Regions from separate parts of the Homo sapiens genome. Here region 1 is linked to region 2. The links come from fine-mapping of genetic effects on gene expression. Tissue or cell type: whole blood. Region 2 holds a variant in brackets; the other region holds the start of a gene. All regions are shown on one strand. Distances are between the middles of the regions.

Evidence for each region. PIP is the estimated chance that this variant, and not a neighbour inherited with it, causes the effect.
Region 1: CFL1 starts here. The variant in region 2 is fine-mapped to the expression of CFL1 in whole blood (TOPMed, PIP above 0.99).

The regions. Positions count from the first base shown.
Region 1 is chr11:65,853,187-65,861,186 of GRCh38, reverse strand. CFL1 (cofilin 1) reads left to right here and starts at 3,007. Exons shown (of 4, transcript NM_005507.3): 1 at 3,007-3,090; 2 at 4,945-5,252; 3 at 5,457-5,533; 4 at 5,739-6,514. The coding sequence starts at 3,088. The coding sequence ends at 5,851. SNX32 (sorting nexin 32) reads right to left here. Exons shown (of 13, transcript NM_152760.3): 13 at 7,486-7,905. The coding sequence ends at 7,852. It overlaps MUS81 (MUS81 structure-specific endonuclease subunit), which reads right to left and starts at 754. Exons shown (of 16, transcript NM_025128.5): 1 at 299-754; 2 at 85-214. The coding sequence starts at 433. RefSeq lists silencers at 82-171, 342-501, 1,552-1,631, 3,042-3,441 and enhancers at 192-731, 1,012-1,101, 1,232-1,281, 1,802-1,891, 2,452-2,521 and 2 more.
Region 2 is chr11:65,825,419-65,833,675 of GRCh38, reverse strand. LOC124902693 reads left to right here. Exons shown (of 7, transcript XM_047427980.1): 1 at 1-2,378; 2 at 7,067-7,400. The coding sequence starts at 165. The coding sequence ends at 1,781. Among named protein-coding and RNA genes, the nearest start is that of SNX32, 4.4 kb to the left of the region's middle. RefSeq lists silencers at 32-161, 5,524-5,818. The variant G/A (reference allele first, on the strand shown) is at 4,866.

The sequences.
Region 1 (8,000 bases), 28 kb before region 2:
TTAAAAGCCAAGGGCTCCCAGGAGAGTACGGAGGCTCCACCTGGGGGAGGTGGGGGATCACCGACCCCTTTCCGAGGCGCTCACCGCCCGATGTTCGGTGCCGCTGCAGCCGCTCGTCCAGCATCCGGCAGAGCCCGTCTCCGAAGTGCTGTAGGATCTTAGCTTCCTTCCCGCTGCGCAGCGGCAGTGGGTACCGTCGGAGGGAACGCAGCGCCTGGCCGGGCAGGGGTAGGGTACCTGGTCAGGGCAGGCCTGACCTGGCCAGCAGCTTTTCCCATCGGGCCACGCCAGGACCCACCTTCTGAAATACGAAGCGCGTGCGGCGCCTGCTGCGGGTCGCCTCGTCCCGCCACTCGGTCAGCCAGCGAACGAAGAGCGGGTTGGGACAGGCAGGCAGCGGGCGCTTCCGGCCCAGGCGGACCGGGGCCGCCATGAGCCCGAGGGCGGGTCCTCCGGCGCTCCACGCCCGCGGGACTGGGACGCCGCCAGTTCTGGAGTCGGGATTCGAACACCTGGCCCAGGGCGGGGCGGGGGAAGAGGGAGACCGAGGGCAGGACCGTTGAGATCACGGGGCCCCAAACACAGGGGGCACTAACGAGAGGAGAGCCTGCGGCCGCCCTCCCACCCCTGCGCTGCTCTAAGTGGTTGGTCAGGGGCGCTGTCTCTAACGATCTTTTCCCTTGGCTCCACTCCAGCCAGCCTTTGAGACGCGCCCTTTCCCAGCCCCCGGAGCCTGGACCGGCTCCTTCCTGTCACCCCAGATTCGAGAGCGGGGTCTTTGTGTAGGCGAGAGGAAGGCGGACAGCGCCCCCTGTGACGGGGAGGACTGGCTGGGCGGCGCTTAACGGACTAACCTGAGCTTGGCGGCTCTAAGGTCTCTTAAGATTGTCAGCTTCAGCCTCAAGCTTGAAGGAGGCTGGAGATGGAGACTGGTCTTGAAAAGAGTCCAGGAGAGGCGGGGGCTAGGAGACAAACGGGTGCAAACGTATTGGTGGGAGGGACACCCAGAAATGGGTGCCGGGGATGAGGACACAAAGGTAAGGCAGGAGGAGCTGCAGGACCCTTGGAGGAAATGGTGATCCTCATCCCCGGGATACAGGGCAAAGAGTGTGTGGTGGAGAGGAAGTCGGGGACGTGCCGAGAAGGCCCAAAATAGAACTCGGAATGTCGGGGGTCAGAGGCCTAGAGGAAGGAGGACTGTAAGTAAGAGGTGCTTGGGCATCCTGGCAGTTGGGGAGGCCTGAGATGGGCACGCGGTTGGGTTTGGGAGCGGAGGAGCAGGCTGCGGGTTAAGAAGCCCAGACACAGGTAGAGGGGAGAACACTTCGTCATTTTTGTGGCTAATCGGAAGTGGGAGACCCTCAGGGAGGTTGAAGATGGAAACCCTACAAAGGGCTTCAACCTGAGAAGCCTGAAAGACACGTATAGCTGAGTTGGACACAGGCGACCCGCCAGGGTTTGAAGCAGCACCCGGCCTCTAGCTGCTATGCCGGAAGTCGCAACACGCAGGTCTCCAGCCTGCGAGGAAGGGAGAGGTGGGCGCCAGAGCTCCAGTCCCGCCCCTCAGGACTGTGCCTAGCCCACGGCGCAGTAGCCCCAGCCAAGCTAAATTGGACCAATGGGCTCCGGCTCCCGCCTCCCGCCCGCCGCGGCCTTATAAGGAGCCTCAAGCCGGCTGTCGGGCTGGCCCCGCCCCCTCGAGTCTCTTGTCCTAATAAGGACATCTAGGGCATCCCGCGGCTGGGGGCGGGCGAGAGCGCGTCTCCAGGGTAACTGCGAAGCCCCCCTCTCTCTCCCCGTTGCTCTTGGAAACTCTAAGGCTCAGAAAAGGGGGCGCTAGCCTCATATTCATGTAGGGTCGCTCGCGGGAGGCGGGGTCAAGCTGCTGTCTCCACCTGGAGCGCCGGGAGTCCGGGCGGGGGCGGTGCTGTGGAATGTCCCCGACTACAACCCCCGGTATGCTCTGCAAGGTACCCCACTCCCAGGCATCGCTCTCCGTTTACACCCTTAATTCCGTTTATAGGATTAGGGCCCCCAGTTCCCTTTCTGGGTTTGCCTCTGACTTGTTTGCGACCCAGTCTTTTCCTGCAGAGTGTGAGGCTGTGGTCACTGTTCTAGAACAACAAAATCATCCCGGAGTCCCCCGCTCGTTTCTTTTTTTTTTTAAGGCATATACTACCACAGAACTTGTCTCAGTTTTGCGGATGTTAGAATAACCATGTACCTGGCTATCAACTCGAGAGCTGGGTTCAAGTCTGGTTTAATATCTATTTCTTCTCATTGGCACGTAAAGGCATGTAAAGAAGCCTTGAATTGAATGCACAAACCCTCGTCTTTACCCTTTAACGCCTCATGACTTTGCCAAACATCTTTAAACAAGAACAAAGCTCTCAGAGATTTCCTTGTACCTTTCCCCTGTGCCTTTTCCTCCTATTCTTGTTTTACTGACGTTGGACATGGCCTTTTTTCAGGAGACGAGAGTGGCTTTACACATGCAGAGTACTAGTGTTTATCCGACTGACGACGCCTTCATACTTGTGATTTCCTTTGCTTTAGGTCGGGATTCCAGGCTAATCAATAGTTGCTTCGATTCAGAAATGCAAAACCCTAACCTCACTCAAAAATTTCAGGCCAAGGGATCCAGATAATACCAGATGGGTCTTAAGAAAGCCGTTTTGCTGTGGGATAAAGAGCCGCTTAGTCGGGGATCGTTTTCGGGTCATTTTACTGAGCGCCGCCTCGCCGGGCTCAGAGCGGTTCCTGGGAAATTGGACCAATGGGCTCGCGCTGCGCGCTGCGGTGCCGCCCAGGACCTGGGCCTACATTTCCCTACATGCACTGCAGCTCGGAGCCGGCCGGCGGGAAGACTCCGTTACCCAGCGAGCGAGGCGGCGGCGCAGGGCCAGCGGACTCCATTTCCCGTCGGCTCGCGGTGGGAGCGCCGGAAGCCCGCCCCACCCCTCATTGTGCGGCTCCTACTAAACGGAAGGGGCCGGGAGAGGCCGCGTTCAGTCGGGTCCCGGCAGCGGCTGCAGCGCTCTCGTCTTCTGCGGCTCTCGGTGCCCTCTCCTTTTCGTTTCCGGAAACATGGTGAGCGGCAGGCCACGGCGCCTGAGGGAGGCGGCTGCGGGTCGGTCGCCTGCGCGCGGGAAGCGACTGGGGAGCGACGTCCGCACCCCCTCCCCCAGCGCCCCGGGCGGGATGAGGGTCTCGCACGAAGGGGCGGGCGGTGCCGGAATGCGCGTGCGCGCCCGTGGGCGCCGGGGAGGGCCGGTCTGGACGTCGCTCGCGCTCCGCCTGGGCTCCCCTCCCCCACCCGCTGGTGCGCCCGCGCGGACACCGGCCGCGGGGGGAGGGGTTCGGGGCGCGCGCTGGGGCGCCCCTCGCGGAACGGCCGGCGTCGCGCCTTTCTTCTTAGGGGCGCGCTCTCGACTGGAGCATGCGGCGTCCAAACCCGGCCCGGGGGCGGCGAGGAAAAAGCGCGCGAGAGGTCTCGGCGCGCGCGCCCCACCCAAGGCTGTTCCTGTCTGCGCGTCACCCTCCCTCGGCAGCCGGGTCCGTCTCGGGAGCAGGTGGCAGGGATGCCTGCGCCCGGGAGGGGCGGGTGCTGGCGCGGCGAGGGGTGATGCTGGGAAGACGGGGTCCCGGTTGGGGCGTGGGTGCCTGCGATTAAGGCCTTGCACCGCAAGGCTTGGAGGGGGCATCGCAGAGACCGCGGCCCGTTCGGGAGCGCATCTAACGAGCTGCGTTCTCACCCGTGCATCGGGCGAGGGCTGGAACGGCGCTGTCTGTCGGCGCGTGCGCGCACGCTCAGGCCCGGCCGCCGGTGCCGAAGCCCTGGGCCAGCGAGGCCTTCCCGGATGGGCCTGAGTGAGGGTGGAGCCGAGTTTAGGGAAGTGACCCAGGCGGGCACCGCCCGGAAACCACCCCGCCCCCTGTATACGGCCCGAGGGCTGAGAAAACCGAAGGTTATGTAGCTTGCCCAGGCTCCTGCCTGCAGGAGATGGGTCTGATACACCCGTTGTTTTAGGGCGATTCCACAGGGTTAGGGACCTGGAGATGCTGCTGCCTCTCGGATACGCGTTTCTGCATTGGTGAGGGGGCCGGGCCCAGCCGATCTCCTGTCCCCGCCCACTCCGGATGCGGCCGAGTCACGTGGCCGGCTTCTTCTGCAGTTCCGGGGAGTTTGGGGGACCAGATTTACCTTGGATTGCCCCTCCCTCTCCTGGCTCGGGCACCCCGAAGCACGACGCAGAGTAGGAAGAGTTTAAAGACCTCGAGGCCTCTGGGCACTTGAGTTTGGCATGTTAATTTTTATCAGCGACTTCTGGGGCCTAGCACCATTCCCGGAAGAAGGGAGTTGTCGGGCAGGGTCCTTAATGGGGGTTGCAATTCTTGTCTTGGTTGGGAAAGAGCCTAGCTGGGAACAGGGGTCGTTTGTGTAGTAACTGTATTAAGCAGTTCTGGTGGGTTTGTTGTAACTGTTCGGTGTCCTTGGGGTCCCATCTAGCATTGTGGGGTCTTGGCTCTTTCTGAAGAGGAGTCTTGGCTCAGGTGTTTGGGTCCTCCATATCCGAAGTTCTAAATCACCAGTTTTATCCAAAGGCTGAGAGCAAGTACTGTGAGTAGCAAATGAGTCAGTAGCCGGTGGATCTTTTAATTCTGGGTTCACATTTTGGTCAAGGTTCTGCTTTTCACGAGTTTTGCATTTCTATCCTGTAAAATGAGGGAAGGGGTTGTTGAACTAGGTGATCAGAGGCCATGGCTGCCATTCTGAGGTTGTGTCCCATCTGGTTCTTTGACAGTGACTTGGGTGGGAAAACTAGTGACTTGCCTTGGGAAGGGCACTAGTGACCACTCGGGACGTGGACTGAGATCTTCTGAAAAAACAAGGGGCAGTTCCCTAGAATCCTTTTCTTGACGTATACGTGGCATGTCTCCTAGGCCTCCGGTGTGGCTGTCTCTGATGGTGTCATCAAGGTGTTCAACGACATGAAGGTGCGTAAGTCTTCAACGCCAGAGGAGGTGAAGAAGCGCAAGAAGGCGGTGCTCTTCTGCCTGAGTGAGGACAAGAAGAACATCATCCTGGAGGAGGGCAAGGAGATCCTGGTGGGCGATGTGGGCCAGACTGTCGACGACCCCTACGCCACCTTTGTCAAGATGCTGCCAGATAAGGACTGCCGCTATGCCCTCTATGATGCAACCTATGAGACCAAGGAGAGCAAGAAGGAGGATCTGGTGTTTATCTTCTGGTGAGCTCATTCTGGCACTTCTTCCTGTCACCTGCCCCCTTTCTCATGATGGGAACTTCTGTGGCTCCTGGTCAACCCAGATGTGTGGGTTTGGAGGGGGAGGGGGTTGTAACAAAAGACTCCTCACTGCCAGCCCAAGGGTTTCTCAAAGTCACCTGTGGCTTTGCTGTTGCTGGGAGTTGCCTGACGCGTGTTTCTGTCCAGGGCCCCCGAGTCTGCGCCCCTTAAGAGCAAAATGATTTATGCCAGCTCCAAGGACGCCATCAAGAAGAAGCTGACAGGTAAGGGCCAGCATTGGTGCTGAGTGCCCTTCTGCTCTGGCCTTGGCTGCAGGGCAGGGTGAATGGCACGCAGAGGGGGTCTGCCCCCTTGTCTTCGCTGCCTGCTTGTTCCTTCCATCTGCTTTGATTGGCTCCTTCCCAGCCACAGAAACTACCCCCACCCCAGTGCTTCCTGCTCACAGATGCTCCCCTTTCTTCTTTATAGGGATCAAGCATGAATTGCAAGCAAACTGCTACGAGGAGGTCAAGGACCGCTGCACCCTGGCAGAGAAGCTGGGGGGCAGTGCCGTCATCTCCCTGGAGGGCAAGCCTTTGTGAGCCCCTTCTGGCCCCCTGCCTGGAGCATCTGGCAGCCCCACACCTGCCCTTGGGGGTTGCAGGCTGCCCCCTTCCTGCCAGACCGGAGGGGCTGGGGGGATCCCAGCAGGGGGAGGGCAATCCCTTCACCCCAGTTGCCAAACAGACCCCCCACCCCCTGGATTTTCCTTCTCCCTCCATCCCTTGACGGTTCTGGCCTTCCCAAACTGCTTTTGATCTTTTGATTCCTCTTGGGCTGAAGCAGACCAAGTTCCCCCCAGGCACCCCAGTTGTGGGGGAGCCTGTATTTTTTTTAACAACATCCCCATTCCCCACCTGGTCCTCCCCCTTCCCATGCTGCCAACTTCTAACCGCAATAGTGACTCTGTGCTTGTCTGTTTAGTTCTGTGTATAAATGGAATGTTGTGGAGATGACCCCTCCCTGTGCCGGCTGGTTCCTCTCCCTTTTCCCCTGGTCACGGCTACTCATGGAAGCAGGACCAGTAAGGGACCTTCGATTAAAAAAAAAAAAGACAATAATAAAAAGGCTCATTAATGGGATGTGTTTTTCAAGGTTGGGACACAGGAGACTTCAGGATTGGGGGTGCACTGGGATAATGGTGCTATCTCTCTCCTCTGTACTCCACACCCAACCAGCCCCTGCACACCCTTATCTGGCTCCAATGACTGGCTGAGACGCCTTTCTGATGGTCACCATTATTCTGTTGGTGCTGTGATTGACACTGGACTGGCTGTTTAAGGAGTGGGTGCTGGCTACAGGGGTCTTCCAGCGGAAGTGATTTATGCCTGAACTGGGTGCTCTGTAGCCTTGCCTGGATGGACAGTGAGGTCCATCTGATATTCTGTTCTGTCCCTTTCTAGGTGTGGGCTGATAGGCAAGTCAGAGGTAGCTCAAAGGTTCTGTTTGGTCTGCTGTCTTCCCTGGATGGCTGACTCAAGTTTATGAGGGTCAGGTTCAGTGGCTGCTGTGAGTCAGGCCAAGTTGAGCCTTTGACCTCCTCTAGATGTGGCTGGAGTGCATTCAGGGTGGGGCCAGCCAGGTGGAGCCCGGGACTTCAGACCCCGGTGTCTTGAGCACTGCCTCCCTGTGTTTAACCAAAAGGGTGTTGCCGGTACCCTGAGCCTTTTGCCAGCATTGTCAAGGGCTGTTTCCAGCCTGTACTTTGGGCTTTTTCCTGCCCAGCAGGCAAAGACATACAAGAAATCTGGCCCTAGGGTGAGGTGAACTGGGAGTGGTAATGTGGCATCTATATTTCCCTTATCAACTGAACTGAGGAAGAGTCCTCCTGGTGTTACAGTTGGCTCCATAACTCCTGGGAACTTGTGAGCGGTTCTGGGAGGAAGGGCTAGATCCCTTTTCTGGTTAGGAAATAGGTGTGGAGAACTTGGGATTCATTTTTGTGCTAGGGTTTATGGGGGTAGGGGCAAACCTGGAAGACTTCTGGGGTTCCTAGGTCCCAGCTTCTGGGTGTCGCGCCTTCCCACAGGGAGCCTGCTGTCACTGGAGAGAGGGCTGAGGATGCTGCAGGGGTGCCCTCCTTGGTGTCTCCAGGATCTGATCATACTGCCTTGGCAGAAAGTGTGCCTGGTGGACCTTTGAGCTGTGGGAAGGGAAGTAAGGACAACAGGCCTCCTTGCTACAAAACCAGGGTTTTTATTTGCGAAGGAGAACAGGCCGGGATCAAGTGAGCTATGATTCCTTCAGGGCTATGGGTGAGGGTAGAGGCTGTTCCTCAGCTTCCTGGGGAGAGGTGTCAGGGTCCCTGGGGCTCTGCTGACTGTGGCCAGTTATGATGCCCATGCTGCCCTGTGTCTTGCAGGGCCTGGCACCTGTGGTGGTGGTGATAGGGGGTTTGGGCTTTCCCTGAGAGGATGTGGGGCAGAGTGAGGGTGTGGCTAGTGGCACTGCTAGGGAAGGAGACATCTTGCCGGAGAGAGGGGTCTGGGATACCCTGGTCACTGGAGATCCCAGATTAGGGTCTGGCTGAGCTCTGGCTACTCTAAGGCTCCCCCTTTAGGGCAACAAGGGTGTTCCGGAGAATCAGGGTGCTGGCCTGCAGAGGAGAAACAGGTCCTTGAAGTCCCCTGCTCCCTGAGTCAGGCTGCCATTCTTTCTGCACCTTAGATGCTCCCTCGCTCCCCACACCCC
Region 2 (8,257 bases):
ACCCCGTGCCGCCGTTCCGGGCCCCTCCTTCCAACGGCCACGTGCGGCCTGCGCGTGCGCACTCGCCCAGTTTGGCGCCCACCAGGCAGTGGGGAAGGGGAAGGGGAAGGGGAAGAGGGTGAGGGTGGCAGGGTGGGGACAGGGAATGGGAAGCAGTGGTGGGGATGTGGGTGGTGGACCAGGGGCGAGGGCAGGGGACAATGTCTGTGGAGAAGGGGGGTCTGTTTAGGTTTCCGCTCTTGGACGGGAGGGAGCGGCGGGGTAAGCAGCCTAGGAGGACTAGGGAGCTCCACAAGTCCCGCGGCCAGGGCGCCCCAAGCGAGGCCGGGGTCCGCGAACGGTCGCCACTGGAGCGGGGCTGCAAGGGGGTGCCGATGCTGCGAGAGAAAACCTGGGGACCTTGGAACGGGCTCATGGTAATTGGGAAGAGAGTGGAGCTCCTGACTAGAAACACTCGAAAGCCGAAGCTGGAGTCTGAGTACTGGAGACTGGAAGATGTGGAAAAGACGGTCTTGAAAGGGAAGTCAGGCCCGAGTCAGGAAAGGATGGATGTGAAGCTGCTATACCGTGGAGCAAGTGCATCACAAGCTTCAGCAGATTTGGGGAAAGACAGCCCAAGGGGTATTTGGGGAAAGCAAGAGGTCAAACACGAAATAAAGGCTAAATCTAAGAGTGCAGGGATGACAGCAGGGCCTATGAAGGGGTCTGGGTTTGAAGAGAGGTTGAGGTCTGCTGGGGAGAAGGTAGGGACCAGTGGAGAGGACTTGAGATCCAATGGATATAAACTGGGACAGGATGAGAAGGGGTTGAGGTCTAGTGTAGACAAGATGAGATCAAGTGTAGAGAAGCTGAGGTCTACTAGTGAGAAGCTGGTGTGCAGGGGAGAGAAGCAGGGGTCCAGTGGAGTGAAGCTGAGGTCCAGTGGCAGAAAGCTGAGATCAAGTGGAGAGAATTTGAGATCAAGTAGAGAGAAGCTGAGATGGAGTGGAGAGAAGCTGGGAACTAGTGGAGAGAAGCTGGGAACCAGTGATGAGAAGCTGAGGTTGAGTGGAGAGATGCTGAGATCAATCAGAGAGAAGCTGAGGTTGAGTGGAGAGAAGCTGGGAACCAGTGATGAGAAGCTGAGGTTGAGTGGAGAGAAGCTGAGGTTGAGTGGAGAGAAGCTGAGATCAAGCAGAGAGAAGCTGAGGTTGAGTGGAGAGAAGCTGGGAACCAGTGATGAGAAGCTGAGGTTGAGTGGAGAGAAGCTAAGATCAAGCAGAGAGAAGCTGAGGTTGAGTGGAGAGAAGCTAAGATCAAGCAGAGAGAAGCTGAGATTGAGTGGAGAGAAGCTGGGAACAAGTGATGAGAAGCTGAGGTTGAGTGGAGAGAAGCTGAGATCAAGCAGAGAGAAGCTGGGAACCAGTGGAGAGAAGCTGAGATCAAGCAGAGAGAAGCTGAGGTTGAGTGGAGAGAAGCTGGGGTCAAGTGCGGAGAAGCTGAGATCTAGTGAGGAGAAGTTAGGGACCAGCGGGGAGAAATTGGAGGGTTCAAGAATGGGGAGCATAAATGAGAAGAACATTGAAAAAGTGGTAGAAGTTACTGGCGATGAAAGAGTGATGGCATTTACTCATGATGAGATGGAAATTCCTTTTGAAAGTGTCAAAGGGAGTGAGGAACTACAAGGGACTGAGAAAGGAGTGGGAGTTGAGGGGGGCATCTTGAGTGAAGTGAAAGATATCACTGATGAATCTGTTTCTATGGAAAAAAAAGATATTATAGGTGAAGGTACCAGTGAATGAGGCAGATGAAGGATTGACACCAAAGAAGGAAAGAGGCAGACAGGAGAAGTACTGAAAGTCAGAGGAGAAATTAGAGCCAGACAGAACATTATTGACACTGAAGGGGTAAAGTTGAGAAAGGAAAGGAGAGAGTCTGAGCCTAAAATAAAAGAGAGTGGAAGTGAGGAAAAGAGCTTCTGGGGCTGAAGGCGGAGGCCAGGATCAAAGGAAGCAAAGAGGAGTCTCTGGTTCAGAGGGAAGTGGGAACATATGGAGGAGAAAGAGAAGACTTGGTAATGTGTTGACAGAGGACACTTGGATATTGGGAGAAAAGGTGTGACTGGGAGCTCATAGGGAAATGTTTGAGAAAAGGATGGAGGATGGGCTAGAAGGATTTAGTCTGACACTAAATGGGGTCTATGAGATGGAGAATTGCAGCAGGATAAAGGGTAGATTTTGAGAGTTGTGGAAGAAGGTGCAGACTGAAGTGGGCAAAATTTCTGAAAGAGGAGCCTGAAGAATGAAGGGCTCCCAAGTGACAAAAGCAAGAGAGGAGATAAGAAAGAAGTGAGAAAAAACATAAGAAGCCACGTGCCATAATGGTGATTGTGTTTGTTGGTATGTCCTTCATTATTTCCTTTTCTTTTCTTTTCTTTTCTTTCTTTCTTTCTTTCTTTTTCTTTTTTCTTTTTTTTTTTTGAGACAGTCTTGCTCTGTTGCCCAGGTTGGAGTGTGCAGTGGCGCAATCTCGGCTCACTGCAACCTCTGCCTCCCAGGCTCAAGCGATTCTCCTGTCTCAGCCTCCCAAGTAGCTGGGATTACAGACATGTGCCACCATGCCTGGCTAATTCCCTCACTATCTTCTAACTTCCAAGTATTGCTATTTATAAGTCTTTTTGTTCTTTTCTTTTAATTCTATAGATAGTGTTTTTTTCTATGTAAATTACCTGTTTGCTACCACTCCCTAACTCAACCTGTATCCTCACCCCATTTTCTCTGGCCTTACTAGAGGATGTTAGACCTTGAATTATAGCTGTTATCTTTTTTTCTCCTTTTGCCCGTCTCTTTTTATTGTATTCTCTGGGCAATTTCATTAACTTTAAAACAATTGATGTATAGTAGATGTACGTATTTTGGGGGTACCTGTAATATTTTGATACATTCATATAATGTGTAAAGATCAAATCAGGGCAATTGGGATATCCATCATCTTAAATATTTATCTTTTCTTTATGCCAGGAACATTCGAATCATTCTCTTCTAGTGATTTTGAAATGTACAATAGATTATTGTTAACTACAGTCACCCTACTGATCTATAGAACACTGGGTCCCATTTCTTCCATCTAACTGTACATTTCTACTCATTAACATGTCTTTATTTCCTCCACCCTTCCTGGCCTCCAGTAACCACCAATCTCATCTCTATTTTCATGAGATCCACTTTCAACTTTATTAACTGTATCTTTCTTTCTTATTGAAATTTTACATTTTAACTCTCTTGTTCATTGATTGCTTTTTTTTTTTTTTTTGAGATGGAGTCTGGAGTCTTGCTCTGTCACCCAGGCTGGAGTGTAATGGCGTGATCTTGGCTCACTGCAACCTCCGCCTCCCCGGTTCAAGCAATTCTCCTGACTTAGCCTCCTGTGCTCACTGCATGAGCTGGGATTACAGGAATGCATCACCACACCCGGCTAATTTTTTGTATTTTTAGTAGAAACGGGGTTCCACCATGTTGGTCAGGCTGGTTTTGAACTCCTGACCTCAGGTGATCCACCCATCTTGGCCTCCCAAAGTGCTGGGATTACAGGCGTGAGCCACCGAGCCCGGCCGTGCTTCTTTTTTTATATATAGTATTTCTGTTCTTGTTTCATGAGTCTGTTCTCTTAGCTCTCCAAGGATTTTTCCAGTTTTTAAGTTTTCTTCTGCTTTTCTTATTGTTTCCCCTGAGTTCCCCTCCCCTGCTTCCCCCCGCTCCATTTTTTTTGTGTGTGTATTGTTGGAAGTTTTCCTCAAATGTTTGATCTTCGGCTGTCCATATTTAAGAATGAGGCATTAAGCAGAGGCAATTGGAAGCACAATTTGGGGCTTGTTGATCTATGGGCTTCACTCTGTGGCGACTGAAGCAAGCAGGATATTTTACTGGGTACACCCAAATATCAGAATCTGTAAATCTCACTGAAGGGACCGTCTGGTTTCTACAGAGAATTCTCCAATCTGTCTGGGGGATATCTGCATGGCCCCTGCTATAGAGGTTACAGCAGCAGGGTCAGGGGAGACGGTTGTGGAGCCACCGCTTGGTACATATGTTTTTACCCAGTCCCTTGTTTTCAGCTCAGTGCTCACTCCACCTTCAGCTGTGCCTGGTGTCCCTGAGTTGGTGCTTCTCAGATTCAGTTTCCCCAAAGAGTAAACCCTCTGCTGTGCTATGGGAGTTGGTGCCCAGCTAAAAAAGGTTGGGGAGGGGATTTGTAAGCTTAACTGCTTTATATACAGACTCCTAAATAATTTCTCTGTTCTCAGCTCTATGCCTTTTTCCTTCCATCTGAGCTATCTGGTCCCTCCATGTCCTGAACTTTTTTGGGGATAAGTAGAGTGAACTGTTAACTTTTCGTTTCTATTATCTTTAAGCACTTAAGTGCCAGCTGCCTCCACTCTGCCAAGTTGGTTACCACTCCATCTCCAAACTTTTTTTTTTTTTGTCATTGTTGTTGTTTTTGAAATAGGGTCTCACTCTGTCACTCAGGCTGGAGTGCAGTGGCATGATCATGGCTCACTGCAGCCTCAACCTTCTAGGCTGAAGCAATCTCCTCAGCCTCCCAAGTAGCTGGGACTACAGGTGTACACCACCACAAGAGACTAGTTTTTTTTTTTTTTTAAGTAGAGATGAGGTCTCTCTATGTTGCCCAGGCAGGTCTTGAACTTCTGGGCTCAAGCGATCCTCCTGCCTCTACCCGAAAGTGCTGAGATTACCGACATGAGCCACTGCACCCCGCCAACTTTTCCCATCTTAAAAAACAAAAACAAAAAACTTCTCTGTACCCTACATTTCCCTCTAGTACTGTCCCATTTTTCTTGCTCCTTAAGGTAGGCACAAAAGTGGTCC[G/A]CCAAAGATATATTCACTTCCTAATCCCAGGAACCTGTGAATATTACCTTAATATGGCAAAAGATGTAATTAAGTTAAAGATCTTGAGAGAAGGGCCCACTTTAGAGGTGGGTCGTAAATGCCATTACAAGTGTCCTTGTAAGAGAGAGGAAGAGAAGGAGAACAGACACACAGAGAGGAGGAGGCAGTGTGATCTCCCAGGCACAGGCTGGAGTTATGCAGCTACGAGTCAAGGAGTGCCGATGGTCGCCTGAAGTTGGAAGAGGCACAGAATGGATTCTTCCCCAGAGTCTCTGTAGAGAGTGTGGCCTCCGCCAACACCTTGGTTTTAGCATCTGACCTCTAGAGCTGTGAGAGAATAAACCTCTATTGTTTTAAGCCATCAGTTGCTGGTAATTATTATTATTTTTTTTGAGACAGAGTCTCACACTGTTGCCCAGGCTGGAGTGCAGTGGCGCGATCTCGGCTCACTGCAAGCTCCACCTTCTGGGTTCATGCCATTCTCCTGCCTCAGCCTCCCCAGTAGCTGGGACTACAGGCGCCCGCCACCATCCCCGGCTAATTTTTATATTTATTAGTAGAGACGAGGTTTCTCCATGTTGGCCAGGCTGGTCTCGAACTCCTGACCTTGTGATGTGCCCGCCTCAGCCTCCCAAAGTGCTGGGATTACAGGCATGAGCCACCACGCCCAGCCGTAGTTCGTTCATCTGTCTGCTATAGTTCCTGTAGTTCTGTAGTTCCAGTTCCTGGAAGTTGAGGCTAGAGGCCCTGGCTTCTCTTTCTCCATCACGTTCATCACCTTCTGACTCAGAACTTTCCTACTGTAGCTGTTTACATCTATCTGTCCTCACTAGGATGTAAATGAGCTCTATGAGGGCAGCAATATGTGTCAGTCTGGTTACCCTCTCTAGTCCAGTGTGTAACCAGCCCATAGTAGCACTCAGCATGTGTCTGCAGAATAAATCAACCCATCATATTCAGTGACTTCATCAGTCTCAGTACTATTTAATATCTATTGAGAAATTGCTATAATAATTTACCCTGTTTCTTAGAATGTCACATTTTTTGAAACCTCAAAAGCCTGAAACTGTCTTTGTTCCATACTTGTACTTGAGGTTTTTCTGGATATAGAGTTTCCCTCAGCAGCCTGAAGATGTGCGCCTTTGTTTTCTTCCTTTCTGCATGGCCATTGAGAGTCCAGATCTATTTCTAAGCTGAGCCAGTTGCACAACCAGGCGTTCTGTGTATGAGATCTGTTTGCTTCTCCCCAGCTCCGCTATTTCTCCTTCTTTATTGGGCAGAAGCTGATAGCTTGCTCTTTCATTTTCTAGGAACTCTGATCCCATTGTTAGACAATAAAGTGGAGATATTAATAGGGAGTGGGCAGAGTTGTAAAGATAAGCTATAGATGGCTCAAGCCTCATGGTAGGATCTTCTTGACAAATGATTATAATAGCTAACATTTACTGAATTCTTGTAATAATCAGGGTAATTTAATCAGCACCATGCTAAGCACTTTACATGTTCTCTATAATTTAGTCCAATAGCTCTTTGAGATAGGAACTATTACTCTATCGACTCTACCCAGTAGACACTGCCAGAGCCAGGCACAGAGTCCAGGCAGCCTGACTCCAGAGCTGAGCTGGAAACCGCTCTGTCTGCTGAATGGCCTCCTCTATTCCTACCAGACAAGCCCTGAACCTTGGCTTCCTCACCTGCCAAAGCAAGGCCTGGGATCCTGAATGGGGGTAGGGAATGAGGCTGTGCAGCAACCCCTCCATTCATTCGGCGCATACTTACTGGATGAGCGCTTCAGTGGCAAGTATTTAAGAATATAAATGTTGGTGGGGTGCGGTAGCTCACACCTGTACTCTCAGCACTTTGGGAGGCCGAGGCGGGCGGATCACCTGAGGTCAAGAGTTTAAGACCAGCCTGGCCAACATGGTGAAACCCCGTCTCTACTAAAAATACAAAAATTAGCCAGATGTGGTGGCTCACGCCTGTAATCCCAGCTACTTGGGAGGCTGAGGCACAAGAATCACTTGAATCCTGGAGGTGGAGGTTGCAGTGAGCTGAGATCGCGCCACTGCACTCCAACCTTAGTGACAGAGTGAGACTCTGTCTCCAAAAATAATAATAATAATTGTGTGTGTATATATATATAAATGTCAAAAAACAATGACGTTTATTTTCTTTCCTAGATCTCTGCCATCCCGAGATCATCACTCCTAGCCTCCTCTGGAAACTCTCTGAGAGTTGGGGAATTGTCTCTTTTATAAGAGGCCTACACAGGCACGAGGTCATACTTGGGCAGTTTTCGGCTTTGTGAAAATCTCTCAGATTGCACCGCACAGTATACAACTGATGAACCAGACAACCACAATCGTTCTTTGGATTGCATTTTCTCCTGAGATATCAGACGCATTTCACCAGGGCCACAGAAAGAAAAATGAAGACCAAGATACCGTGACAAATGCCAACTACCTCATAAGTGCAGATATTTTCAGTTATCTAGGTAGCTAGAGCTTTGCATAGGTAATACCCTTTTCTACTAAAATTAACCAAAACACACACATTCCAGGGCTCCTGAGTGATTTTTATATATATATATATATATATATATATATATATGTATATTTAAGTATATATACATATATGTATGTATAATTATATGTATATGTATACATTTATATATGTATATAACATATATATATTTTAAATATATATATATCGTGTGTGTGTGTGTGTGTGTGTGTGTGTGTGTGTGTGTGTGTGTGTGTATATATATATATATATATATATATATATATATATATATATATATATATATATATATATAAAACAGAGATGGGGGTCTCACTATGTTGCCCAAGCTGGTCTCAAACTCCTGGGCTCAAGCCTAGATGATTTTTTTTTTTTTTTTGTGAGACGGAGTCTCGCTCTGCCACCCAGGCTGGAGTGCAGTGGCACAATCTCGGCTCACTGCAAGCTCCTCCTCCCGGGTTCACGCCATTCTCCTGCCTCAGCCTCCCAAGTAGCTGGGACTACAGGCGCCCACCACCATGCCTAGCTAATTTTTTGTATTTTTCATTAGAGATGGGGTTTCACTGTGTTAGCCAGAATGGTCTCGATCTCCTGACCTTGTGATCCGCCTGCCTTGGCCTCCCAAAGTGTTGGGATTACAGGCGTGAGCCACCACGCCCGGCCAAGCATGGACGATTTTTAAAATTTTTATAATTTTATTCTTTGTATAGTCCCAGCCTTGTTTCTTGTAACAGAATGTGTTAAAGTAACATTAACTTTTGGTTGGGTGCCGTGGCTCATGCCTGTAATCCTAGCACTTTGGGAGGCTGAGGCGGGCAGATCACTGGAGGTCAGGCATTTGAGAACAG